2 separate regions of the Homo sapiens genome follow, and region 2 is linked to region 1. A link means that fine-mapping ties the variant in region 1 to the expression of a gene that starts in the linked region. Tissue or cell type: caudate. Region 1 holds a variant in brackets; the other region holds the start of a gene. All regions are shown on one strand. Distances are from middle to middle.

Region 1 (7,787 bases):
CATGAGTTGGTGCACGTGTGTTTGTGTGTAGAGCGGGGAAGAGAAGATTAGGGCTGTTAAAAAAAAAGAATATATATATATATATATATATATATATATATATATATATATATATAATATATAATATGTTATATATACACATATGTATACATATATACATATATAACATATATAATATATGAATGGCAGCTTTATTGAGATATAATTCACATACTATACAATTCAACAATTTAAAGTATACAATGTAATGGTTTTTGGTATATTCACATAGTAGTATCAATTTTAGATTTTTTATTGCCCCAAAAGAAACTCCATTCCCCTTAGCCATTCCCCCCATCTCTGCCTCCTTACTCCTTCCCTCAGTCTCCTTTCCCCAGACCCTGGAAACCACTACTCTACTTTCTATGTCTGTGAATTTGCCTCTTCTGGACATTTCATATAAATGGAATCAGAATAGGTGGTCTTTTGTGGCTGTCACTGCTTGTCCTAGCCAATGCTATACCAGCTTGACTTTGTGGCAGGAGGCATCAGGGTATCCAGATAGACTTACTGTTTTAAAAGAAACAGCATTTCCAGGCTGGCTAGGACAGAGAAAACTACGTAGAACAATACTTTTCCTACCTGGTGGATCATCAGAATTACCTGGGAAGCTTAAAATGAAAGATTCCTGGCCCCTAATCTCTCCAGGAATTCAAATATGGTAGTTCCAGGGAGTCTGAGCTGCTTGGGATTTTTTTCAGTGCCACCAGTGATTCTAATGATTGTCTAGCTGTAAGCAGTGGGACTCAAGTTTTGAACAGAGGCATGAGAAGAAAATGGCATTTCCCTGCAGATGGGCTGTACCAGCTGCAGCTTCAAGTCCAGTGCCTCTTGTGGGAAAGGAGCCACTCCCTTGTCATTCGCCACATCTACACTGCAACGCTGGTTTATGTCAGACTATCATCTTTGACTCGGCATGACAACAGTGCATATTTGAAGGCCATCAAACCAATGATATTAGCCTTGTTTACGGTTTAGCTGGAAAATATCTCCCATGTGGTATAGTAAGAAGAGCACTGAATTTGAATTCTGAAGCTCACCAGAGTGTTCCACTGACTAGTCTCAGGGCTACTGTGAGCACCCAGTGAGAGTGGCCATGAGAGGTGACACACTGCACAAGTCAGGGCACTGGAATCATGGGACAAGATGGGACCTTAGAGAATGTCTTGTCTGCCTGCCTCATTTCATAGTAGAGAAAATGAGGCCCTGAGAGGTAAAGTTCTTCACTGAAGGTCATACGCCAGCTATTAGTAGTGTAGCCAGCACCAGGGTGTCCTAGCCTTTGCCTCCTTCTGTTTCTCACTGTGCCCTCCTTCCCTACATTGCTCTCTTTTGGGATCTGAGGAATCATATTCAATCACCTTTCATTTTCAGAAATGAGGAAACCCAGGCCTCGTTTGTCCATGGCTACAAAACTAATTGATTTATATTTGCTTTGGATGACTAGGAGTTAAAATAATGACAGGTGAAAAATCCAAGATGGCGTTTGTATACCGCTTTTAAGAGCAATCCACAGCAGATTCAAGTTTTGTGAGGCCTGAAACTCATGCAATTTGAAAACTTTTTTCAAGAAAAATAACACACAATTGCAAATGAAAAGTTAGGTTCCAGGCCTTGGAAGCAGTCTGCGCCCATGAGGGGCCCTCATTCACTTCACTATAAATCCACCTCCAGGAGCAGTAATAAAGAGATCCCTACTCATGTTTGTGCTGCTAGGTTCTTCTGTTTGTATAAATAGCATGTGTCCTGCTAAGTCACCTCCACTCTTATAAAATGGAGGCCATTCTGCCAACACATGTGTATTGAACATCTCTTTATCTGTAAGGAATACAGAAGGGAACCAAGAAAGGAAACTAAGCTACCATCTCTAACTCAGGAGATGAGGCACAAAGGCAGAATGGAGGAATTCCCTCCCTGCTGTGGTCTGGGCCAGGGTGCCTATGGGAGCCCAGCCTCTAGGAGGTCTCCAGTTTTAATCTCAGATAATCTTCCTCTTGTAGTCATTCTTCTCCCTCTGCCTATCAAATGCAGATGTTGAGATGAGTAAACCCTTTGGGGTTTTTGGATGAAAAACTTTTCAAGATTTACATGACATTTTTGGGGTTGTGCCTACCCAAAAAAGTCTTATATCTCACATCACTGCCTTAGAAATGAATTAAAGGTGCATTTATCCATCAGGGCCACATTCCCCTAAAATGCACCTAATAGCACTGAAACAATTAGAATAACACAGGGATCCTGAATAATCCATGCCTCTTGTCAAGAAATTTTTTTCTATTTTTATTTTTGTAAAACAGCTTCCTTATCCAGTTGTGTTTAGTTTATTTAAACGATCACATCAGCATTAGGTTCTGGTTTGGGGTTTTTTTTTTTATTTGTTTGTTTAAGTCTCGTTTCTGACACTTTCTGAAAGATGCAACATGGAGATAGGCCAGGAGGGAAACTAGTTTTAGGGTGTTCTCATTACATTCATTTTATGTCATTTTTTATTATTAGGTTTACATTATTGAATTCCTGTGGAGAAGAGGAGTCAGAGCTGTGAATAAGTCATAAGTCCCTATAGGTAAAATCAAGTACTATTTGTCTCTGATCAAAATTGCCCTTTCCATTGATAGGAGAAATGACTGGGCCTCCTTGTCATCCAGAGTTCATTTTGTTTTTCGTGGCAGTTTCACTGTCTTTGGGAATTGAGCTTTTTGAAATGTTAAAGCACGAGAAGCATGAACACCTTGGCAGGGTTTGCAGTATCTCCTTCTAGTGCAGGATGGAGGGCTCCAGAGCTGGCAATTTGAGGAATGGCTGGTGGCTTCTGATGTCACCTGCCACTCATGTGTCCCTCCCTGTTTTGAATCATGGATCTCAAACATCCTCAAAAGCTCTTCCCTGGTAATTTCAAAACTCTGAACAAATCAATCCTAAGAAAAAATAAACAAACATGCAGAAGAGCAGAAGGATATTTAGGATATGGTTCTAATTAAAATTTTTAAGTTTTCCTTTTTCAAAATCCTGTATGAGCTATTAAATAGGGAAAAACAAACTTCTGAGTAGGAAAGAAATAAAGGCCATTACCCTTAGAGATTTTGAATCTTACAATAAACAAATAGGTCTTCTTTTCCCCGAATGTTTCTTCTTATCAACACAAGGGAGTTGAGTGATGGCTACAGCTCTAAAATACTGAACATGGCTGCCTACTGAATTCAGCATACATACGTAGGGATATGTTACATAAGATGCACATACATACTTTATTTCTATTAGCCTGTGAAACAGTGAACATGCCTGCTCTTATAAAGCTTCTAGTAAAGGAACTACAAAAGAAACACATCTACTGGGCATTCTCACACTGGCTGAGGTAGGTTGGAACCATCTGGATTCTTGCCTGTGGCATAGTTAACCTCGTGACTATCCAGTTTTCCAATTATCCAGGCCCATTTACCTCTGCTCCCACTCAGCGAGCCCTTTGGCTATTTCTCTGTTCATTGGCACCTAAAGTCAAGGAGAAAGAAACGAACATTTATTAAGTGCTATGTTTGTACCAGTTAATCTTCTCAATGAAGTATTATTATCACCCCTGTTTTACAGAGAAGGAAACTAATATTCAAAGAGGTAAGATAACTTGTTCAGGACCACATATGTTTTTAAGTATAGAGCTCATGCATTATAAAGTGACCACCCTAGCTAACATTTATTAAGCACAATATTTGCCAGAATTCTTGCAAAAAGCCTTACAAGGACTATTTTATTTTATCCT[C/T]ATACCAACGGCTTAAGGATGGTATTACTTAAGTATTCTTGTTTTACAGATGAGGTCATACAGCTAAGGTGATGAGGCCAATATTCAAACTCAAGCATCTGGATTGCAGGCTGCACTTTTGATCGCCATGTCTAGCCTCCTCTATACACCTGCTCTGACCGATTTGGTATTCACCACGCCCAAGAGGCTACTGAACACCTGAAATATGGCTGGCTGGAGTTGTGATGTACTCTAAGTATAAACTACACACCCTATTTGGAAGACAGTATGCAAAAAAGAATATAAAAAGTCTCTTTGGCAATTCTTTATATCAATTACATGTTGAAATGATAATTTGGATATATTGGGATTAAAAATTATTTAATTTCACTATTTCTTTTTACTTTTTGAAGTGAGAAGACTAGACAATTTAAAATTACAAATGTAGTTCATATTCTATTTCTATAGAACAGCACTGCTATATACTATTTTAAAATAATATATAAAGGGGACTAGAACTGACTCAGGCCAACATTATTTTTCATCAATAGTTCTAGTTAAAAATTTGGTTGGAAGTGGGTGGATGGGAAGGTTGAAGCCCATTTTTAAAGATAAGTTTGGTGTTTTTATGAATTTGAGTTATGTGTGCTTTCTTCACCCGTTTTACCATGTGTGGGTAAGAGACTTGCCATTTTTAAGAATCAGAAGAATTCTGTGAGGTGTATTTCCAGTGTCTGTGTGTAGTGCTGCAGCTGTCTGAGCGTATTGCCGGAGGCACCTCCTTTGGACTTTAAGGCACGAATTGCTCATCACTGTCCACACAGCTTTGTGGCCGCCTTTGAGTCTATCTCTTTTAACATAACATTGAGTTCTGGCTCCAGGTCTGGCACAAAGTTGATAATAACTAGTGAATACTGTTTTGTTTGGTTTGTTGTAGTTTTATTCTTTTTTTTTTTTTGAGACAGAGTCTCACTGTGTCGCCCAGGCTGGAGTGCAGTGGCACAGTCTCGGCTCACTGCAGCCTCCGCCTCCTGGGTGCAAGTGATTCTCCTGCCTCAGCCTTTCGAGTAACTGGGACTACAGGCACACACCAGCATGCCTGGATAACTTTTTTGTATTTTTATTACAGATGGGGTTTCACCATGTTGGCCAGGCTGGTCTCAAACTCCTGACCTCAAGTGATCCACCCGCTTCGGCCTCCCAAACTTCTGGGATTATAGGCATGAGCCACCGGACCCACTTTATTCTTAATACCTATTGCCAGGCAGAGGTTACATGGATATAAAAGAGAGAAATTGGGAATATTTGTATGAGATGGGAAACCACAGGCCAGGAAAGCATTACCAAAGGGTTGTAGAGGATTTAGTCTGGGCCCCTCCCCAACGTACACACCACGTGCCTTCTCCTCTCGAGGCTAGAATTAACCCTCACCCCACCACCAGCTGCCAAAAAATAGTAGTAGCTGCTGGGAACTCAGAAACAGAAAAGAATTTTCTATGAGATTACTGTCTAAAACAAATGTTTATTCTAGCCATTTATAAAGAACACTTATGGATTTACAGCAGCTTAGGATAGTGAAAAAGAAGTAGAGGAATGGTAATTAATTCAGGTACGAATTTGTAAGGCCAAGTGAGAATCACGTTCCTTGTCGTGGCCCAAAAGGCCTTGTCAGACTCAGATGGAGTCTCCTCGTTTTAGTCTACAGACATATGGGTGGAAGTGACATGATGGAATAATTACATTCCCAAGCCGTGTACCCAAAATCTGTGCTAGGACCACTCCCCTGGCCAGTGCGGAACCAGGTCAGCTGGTGGAAGGGGCTCTGAATGGGCACAGCGCTGCCAGGCCCTGCCACTCCCACCTCATCCCATCCAGAATGGGTCCAACACAGTTCCTGCTAACCCTTATCCACACCTCCTCAACCATAGTCCCCAGTGACCTGCTTCCTCTGTGAAGCCCAGGCTGACTGGAAGGTGACCCTCAACAGAAACCATCAGAGAGCTTTGGGTCTGGGGCGGAGGGTCACCTCCACTCTCACGGTGGTGTCTTGGTGTTAATGTCATCTGTTGGCTCAGCCATTCATTGCTTCTCTCTTCCCTAAGCTCCTGCAGATCTCCTTTACTCGTTTCTTAAGTGTAGGAAGCTATCTCCTTGGATGCTGGGTCACTAATTATAAACTTCCTATGCATTTACCTGGCTCTGGTTTGGCCCCTAATGTCTTTATTTCTGCCTGCAGGATTGTCATTGCCATTGCCCCTTTTCCTTACCTGGGAACCCGACATACTCTGCTTATCCCTTGAGCTGGCACACCAGGGGGCCTGGAATTCCTGTTGGTGAAGTCACTACTTTAAGAGAATTATCCCAGAAATCCTCTAAGTTGCAAATCCTACAGGAGCAGAGTACTACATGTTAATTAGCACTCATTATCATGTTAGTAGAGAAGCTTACCCAAAGGAATGATACATAGGACCTGCTATGTCATTGAGAACAGAGAGGTGGGGCTCAGGTTCTGGACAAATGATGTCATAAGTAAGTGTAGTTTCAGAAAGGAAGATGAAGTGGGAGCTTTAGATAATTGGAGGCGGTAGGCCTGTATATGGAACCAGATGCTAGAGAGCCCAAGTCCATATTTTTACTTTTTCACAGTTTTGTGTCCATATCCTCACCGAATCCCAACCACCACCACCACAGTTCTATATCCCGTTATTTTTTCAATAATAACTGATACCTCAACTTAAGCTCCACTCTGACCCTCAGCTAAGCCATATAATTTCAGCAAGAATTATAAAATAAAGTTTTTAAAGGACAAACATGAGCCTTAACCTTAGTATAAAGACATGCTTAGCCTTCATACAAATTGCCAAGTTGAGACTTCATTTCAGACGGCAAATAAAAGTTACATGAAGGAGCTAAAAGTGCTATTGCAAATTACCTATTTGAAACGGCTTTTTCAAAACCTGCTAAATTCACACCTCTCCTAAAAATGCTTCACTTCCAGATTATTTTATTTTGGGGTTTTGTGTGTATGTGTTAGAGGGGGTGGGGTTTGTGGTGACTACAGAAAAATTAGTTAAATTCATAGGATAAAATTTGAACTTTTGCAAATGAGTAAACAGCCAAAACAAACACCGCTTCAGAAAAAAAAAAAAATACACGTTTTCTCCTTTTGGAAAGCAAGCAATGCTTAAGCAAAATACCTTAAAAGTTAACTAAAAAGCTTTTCTAAAATAAACAACTCTGCTTGTGATCCTAAATTGGGACCACATGTAGATGTGAAAGCTACAAATGCAGTGCACTCAGAATTTGCGTCTCTGCCTTCACTGTTTGCGTGCCTCTGAGTAGATGATGATAATGTTGGCTTTGGTCCCCAAGGAGCCTGAGTTTTTTAGATCCTAGTATGAGGGGGAAAAGCAGAAGAAGAAAGAGAAGGAATGAAAACAAATGCCTTTCAAGACAAAATATCCGAATGGGTTTCATTTTGCTTATCTGCCAACAGGCTCAACCCAATTTAGATCTCTCCTACAAGGACAGGATAGTGCCAGCCAGGGTGTCTGCCCTTGCCGGCTATGTGGGGCAGTCCCTGTGAGGGACCAGGCTCGAATTCAGAGCAGAAGGATCACTCTAGCAAACTGCCAGGGCCAGCCCTCTGCCCTGAGGCAAGTCAATGAATTAGCCAATTCAGCACAGATAGAATCATTCCTTTGTTTTTCTCAATTACCAAATGCTGTGTGCTTTGGGGGTCACTTGTCATGTGAGTTTAGAGAATGTGGATATTGCAACATAAACCCTCACCATTCTAAACAGCTTAAACTAAATTCTGTTACTAGGGAGGAGAGCTGAGGTGATAATATCCATCTCTAAGTATAAACTATTGTGTGTTCATTTTCCCATTATGGGAGACAAATTTCTCTTCTCCGCTAGTGCTCATGATCTCTTCCACCAGGCACAAACATCAGATGTGTGTTTATGTGGACATATTTTGTCCCCTATTATTGGAGAGCAAGCTCCTTGAGAGAAG
Region 2 (5,000 bases), 52 kb after region 1:
CCTGCCCTTATGAACCTTACATTCTAGTGGCAGGAAATACTATAATGCCAGGGAGAAGGGAGAGAGAAATGAGAATGAAGAAAAATGATGCAGTGATGCATAGCCCTCTCTATCTCTTTGGGATACAGAGAGGGGGCGTGTGTTGTGGGGAGGAGGTGGGGGCTCTATTATAAAAAATATGGCCTGAGAAACTGCATGAGGAAGAGTCATCATGATTTGATACATGGAGATAGAGAAAACCACAGTGTCAGGGCTCCAAAAAAAAAAAATCACTTCCATTTTGGGAGGTAATTTCAGCTTCTTTGTATTTGATTTGGGGCAGTATATAAGTCTTGGGAAAAAAAGAAGTGACTAAAGCTTTTATTTTAGATGAGGAGGACTTAATGAATTTGTAAAATATGCTCCCTTTTGTGGGGAGAAGTACAGCAGTTTGCACGTTGGGAGAACAGCTGGCTCCAATACAGCTTGGTGGTGGGCTTCGACTGAACTGGTCATCGCCTAAGTATTTTGTGTATTTCTGATTACCTATCTCTCCAGGAGCCCACGTGAGCAAGACAGGTCTTCAAGCTGGTTCAATGCTCCCATTCTGTAGGCAACTACAAACTGTGGCTCACTGCATGACTTAACAACAACTGATTGAGAATTGTAAAGTGCAGCCTCGAGTTCATGTGTAGAAACTGCCATCTGCACAAACAAAACATTGAGAGGACTAAGATTTTAAGGATACTAATGCAGACGTCCTTCTTGCTTCATTTATTTAAAAATATCTATTTCACGTTCCTAACAGCATCTAGTAGATGTTTCTTGCTTCTTCCCCCTAACGCCGGACTAAAGAGAAAAAAAAAATAGGCTGTTTTCTGGTCTGGTTTTGTTTTCCTAGTCAAGTACTTAAATTACGGGTGTTTCGTAAGTATCTTTTGATGGATTTCATTGTTTTGTTTATTTCGCGTTAGACAATACAGACACCTTCATATTTCCTTCTGTAGCAAATCTTTTTCAAAGTCTTCATTTGACGTGGCTGATGGAGCTGGTCTGCAGATCTTGCAGACGTGTTAATTTTTGCACGGACTTTAGCTTCAACACACAAAACTTACGGCCTCTTTGAGGAACCAATTTTTCAGGCTAAGAGAACAAATGAAAGTGTTCGCTCATCTTTCGAAAACTATTTATGTACTTGGTATCCGGAATGTGACATTGGTTTTACACGTCGGTAGGTTTTTGTCCTAAATTTCTGGGAAGTTACTTCCTCATCTAACGTTTTATTTTCCTGACTTATTCGTCTTTGATATGCTACAGAAAACCCCTCTCGCCCAGTGGCTGTTTTCTCTCTGTCTCTTAAGATAATTTAGGAACAGAAGCCTTGACTTTTGACGGTCATTTAGTTTTATTCTCCTCCCGTGACTCCCCTCTGTACACTCACAGGGGAGGCCGCCGGCATCTGGGCTGAAAGAACCCTTGGCGGGCGAGGAGAGCAGGGTGTCATGTTGGCGACAGGCTCCTGCTGGCGGCCAGCGAGCCCGCCAGGTTAACGGGGGCGCCGGGGTCAGCGCCCTCGAAGTTGGGGGCCTCGGGCGGGGCCGCCGGGGAGCCACGACGGCCGCTCGACCAGAGCATCCCGCAGTCCCGTTCCCTCCAGAGGGGAAGAATGGCCGAATCTGGCACGATCCCACGGAGATCTCGCTCTTCCCAGCGCAGTCTCCGCTACTGAGCGCGGGACCAACGCAGGCGATGCCGGGCGGCCGACAGGGAAAGCCCAGACCTGGGGCAGAGAAGGAATGAGGGGCCGCCAGCCGGGGGGATTTCCTCCCGCTCTTCCCTCTCCAACGGGAGCGGAAAATGTGATTTGCTGTGCATTCCAGGCGCGGTTCCCTGGGGTGACCTCTCCCAGCCGGCCCGGGCGGGGGGAGCAGACAAAGAGGCGAGGCGGGCGGAGAGGGGACCCCGCGGGGAAGCAGGAGGGGTGCGGGGGGCGGGGGCAGTACCGGGAAAGGGGGCGGATAGCGGGTCTGGCGGCGGCGGCGGCGCCTGGCCAATGGAGAGGCGCGGCCCCGGGCGCCGCGCTCTGCCGCCGGCATTTAAACGGGAGACGGCGCGATGCCTGGCACTCGGTGCGCCTTCCGCGGACCGGGCGACCCAGTGCACGGCCGCCGCGTCACTCTCGGTCCCGCTGACCCCGCGCCGAGCCCCGGCGGCTCTGGCCGCGGCCGCACTCAGCGCCACGCGTCGAAAGCGCAGGCCCCGAGGACCCGCCGCACTGACAGGTGAGCGCGGACGCACCCGGCAGGGATGTGAGTGGGCGGAGGGAAGAGGGCCGCAAACCAACCCAGGACCCGCTCAGTTCCACGCGCGGCAGCCCTCCGTGCGCGCAGGCTCGGGTGCGTTGTTCGCGGGGGTGAATTGTGAAGAACCATCGCGGGGTCCTTCCTGCTGAGGCCGCGGACACCGTGACCTCGCTGCTCTGGGTCTGCAGGGAAACGTAGGAAAAAAAGTTGTCAGGAGCGGGCAGGATGACCCCCACATCCCGTTTCCACCTCCCGGAGGCCCCCGAACACGCTCCTGGTGCTGGTGGCAGCAGCGCCTGGCAGACGCGCCCGCTTAGCGAGGGCGCGAAGTCCAGGCCGCCAGAGCGCAGGAGCATCCGGACCTGCTAGTCGGCCGCTGACTGCGCGGCGAGTTGCCTTGAGAGGGTCCCATGTGCTTGGGGCGCCGCGCTGGGTCTGGGGGCGTCTTGGGGCGCCCATTGGAGTCCGCGGGTTGGAGCATCCGGAGAATCCATGATGTGTGCATTTGCCGATCCCCGAGGTGAGATGGAGACTGGCAAGGGCAGAGCCGCTGTGTTCAGCCACAGCGGAAAACCGAACGGTGGGTAATCCGACAGCTGCGGTGCGGGGCGCGGCCCTGGCCGCGGGGTCCAGCGAACCCGCAGTGCTCACAAGGCAGACACCACACGCGCTCGCGGACCGGCCACGCACTCGCGGGCGCTCGCTTCTCTACTCCAGCCTCTTCCCCGCCCCGCGCACGCCCGGGCTGAATGGTAGACGTTCTGGCGCCGGGCAGCGGCCACCGGCTGGTTCCCACTTCCGCGCGCACCCCTTAAACTGTGTTCTAGAGGCCCCAGCCTCGCCTTGCAGCGCCTCACTAGCTCCTGAGGACTAGGGACTGGCGGCTGAGGCGGGTTGGCGGCTGCAACGAGCTGGGCGTCTTTCGTTCTCTCTCGCTGCCTGGCTGGCTCCGCTGGCCCCTCCACAGCTTGCGGAGCAAGGCCATAGCAGGGGAGTGGGAGGTATATTGGGGCTGTCACCTCCTTGCTGGCCGGAGTTATTTGTAGACTACAGACTCCGGAAGAACAGACGCGCCACCGCTCTCGCTTGGCATTGCCTTCGGATCGCAGCTCCTCCTTGGGGGTGCCCCAGCTTGGCGTTTATTTGCCTGCGCCAGGCTCTGGCGACGGTCACCGGGCCAGGCGGGGAGGGACGGACGGCAGGTGACCAGCCTCTGCTGTGAAGAAATTCCTGCGCGCCCGGAGCTGTCCCTAATGCATTCCCGGGTCGAATCCGTCTACTGCCTTCCCCTCCTCGACCGACTCCGAATCTCGGCTCTTATAGACAGAAATACAGCCTCAGCGTTAGGGGTTAAAATCCCCCTCTTAAACGGTCCGAGGGCAGAGAGGTGACCACCGATAGGTAATTGGATCTCCTGCTGGAAAGAGCAAATCTGAGCGGTGTGCGCGTCTGTTTATGTTCCCCTTCGAGATGGTGCCAGGACACGAACTGATTAAAACAATCTATTGTGTTAAGTGGGTCACTAGGGTTTTAAGCTGTCCCAGGGACCCCAGAGTAGTGGCTTCCTTCTGGCTGTACACACAAGTTAAATAAATAGCGTAGAAGAGGTTAAGATAACCCCATTCTAGGGTGAGGAGTCCTCTTTCATCCCTAGGGCTTCCCCCTCCCCTTTTCTCTTTTTTTGGAAGGAGGGGGAGCATGAGAGTCTTGAGGGGGGGATGTACTTTTCAAAGCAAGGAGGGAAAGATCTTAAGAAAACTATATATTCTCACTGCCCCCCAAGCCAAGTCTATAACAGTAGGTGATTTGATTACTATCTCTGGATAAATGGCACTGTCAAATTGTTAATATTAACTATTTCAGGGATTTTTAGCAGGGTAGTGGCAGTATGTGTGCGTGTGTGTGTGTGTGTCTGTGTGTGTGTGTTTAACCTCCAGGTCATTGTAGGAATTAGAGTCTTTTGTAAACTTTGTAATTTCACAGGTTTCCTATTTTCTTAAAAGTTCATTTTTAGTGAAATGTTTTGGTAACCCACGCTCTGTAGGAAATCCAGGTTGGCTAATGCGGTCTTTATGTGAGTAGTTACACAGGGAAGGATAAAAACCTTTTATGTCCTACATCTCTGAATGAGGGCTGCCTACCCTGTCTTTGAAACTAAGCCGAAGATGCCTTCAGTCTGAATGGTCAAGTATTAAAAGTGATAAAATGCAAAGAAATTTCATGCCGCAGACACCTCCCCCAAGAACTGCTTGTTGACAGCAAAGCTGTGGAACATGTTCCACAACAGAGAGTAAAGGACAGCCAGGAAATATAAACCTTTTATGTAAAGGAAAGGCAGGTGGGGGACAGTGGTTAGGGGAGGTGACTGCAGCCTCTAACCAAAAGGCAACCATCAGGCAAGTGCTACCAGCCCGTGTCTTCGATCTGCAAGGAATTTTCTTTAGTTTTAACATATGCTCTTAGAAATTCAAAGTACAACAGGAATTCCTGGGACAAGAGAAATCTTTTTATTCACATGTGAACATGAAGATACAAAATAGATAATTATTTTATTTATAGCACTCTTCAAATTGTATTGCATTAGAAAACATATCCATTGACCCACTGTTAAGGACAGCACTGGGTGTCAATAGGACAGTGGTTAAGGACCTGTGTTTGGGGCTAGATAGAATTGGGTTTAAACTGCTGGCTGGGCTAGGCACAGTGGCTCACACCGGT

Evidence for each region. PIP is the estimated chance that this variant, and not a neighbour inherited with it, causes the effect.
Region 2: it holds the start of GREM1, and the variant in region 1 is fine-mapped to the expression of GREM1 in caudate (GTEx, PIP above 0.99). The same link has a PIP of 0.9 or more in cerebral cortex, hippocampus, nucleus accumbens, prefrontal cortex, putamen and spinal cord.

What each region holds. Positions count from the first base shown.
Region 1 is chr15:32,662,964-32,670,750 of GRCh38, forward strand. All of the region lies in intron 10 of ARHGAP11A-SCG5 (ARHGAP11A-SCG5 readthrough), which reads left to right. The region is part of intron 2 of SCG5 (secretogranin V); the gene reads left to right. SCG5-AS1 (SCG5 antisense RNA 1) reads right to left here. Exons shown (of 4, transcript NR_135505.1): 2 at 6,037-6,155; 3 at 3,476-3,525; 4 at 2,739-2,954. LOC124903458 (a long non-coding RNA gene) reads left to right here and starts at 628. Exons shown (of 2, transcript XR_007064573.1): 1 at 628-2,602; 2 at 3,840-4,157. RefSeq lists an enhancer at 7,219-7,751. The variant C/T (reference allele first, on the strand shown) is at 3,791.
Region 2 is chr15:32,715,901-32,720,900 of GRCh38, forward strand. GREM1 (gremlin 1, DAN family BMP antagonist) reads left to right here and starts at 2,104. Exons shown (of 2, transcript NM_013372.7): 1 at 2,104-2,261. GREM1-AS1 (GREM1 antisense RNA 1) reads right to left here and starts at 2,965. Exons shown (of 2, transcript NR_109767.1): 1 at 2,645-2,965; 2 at 2,201-2,464. RefSeq lists enhancers at 1,610-2,110, 2,248-2,826, 2,827-3,404.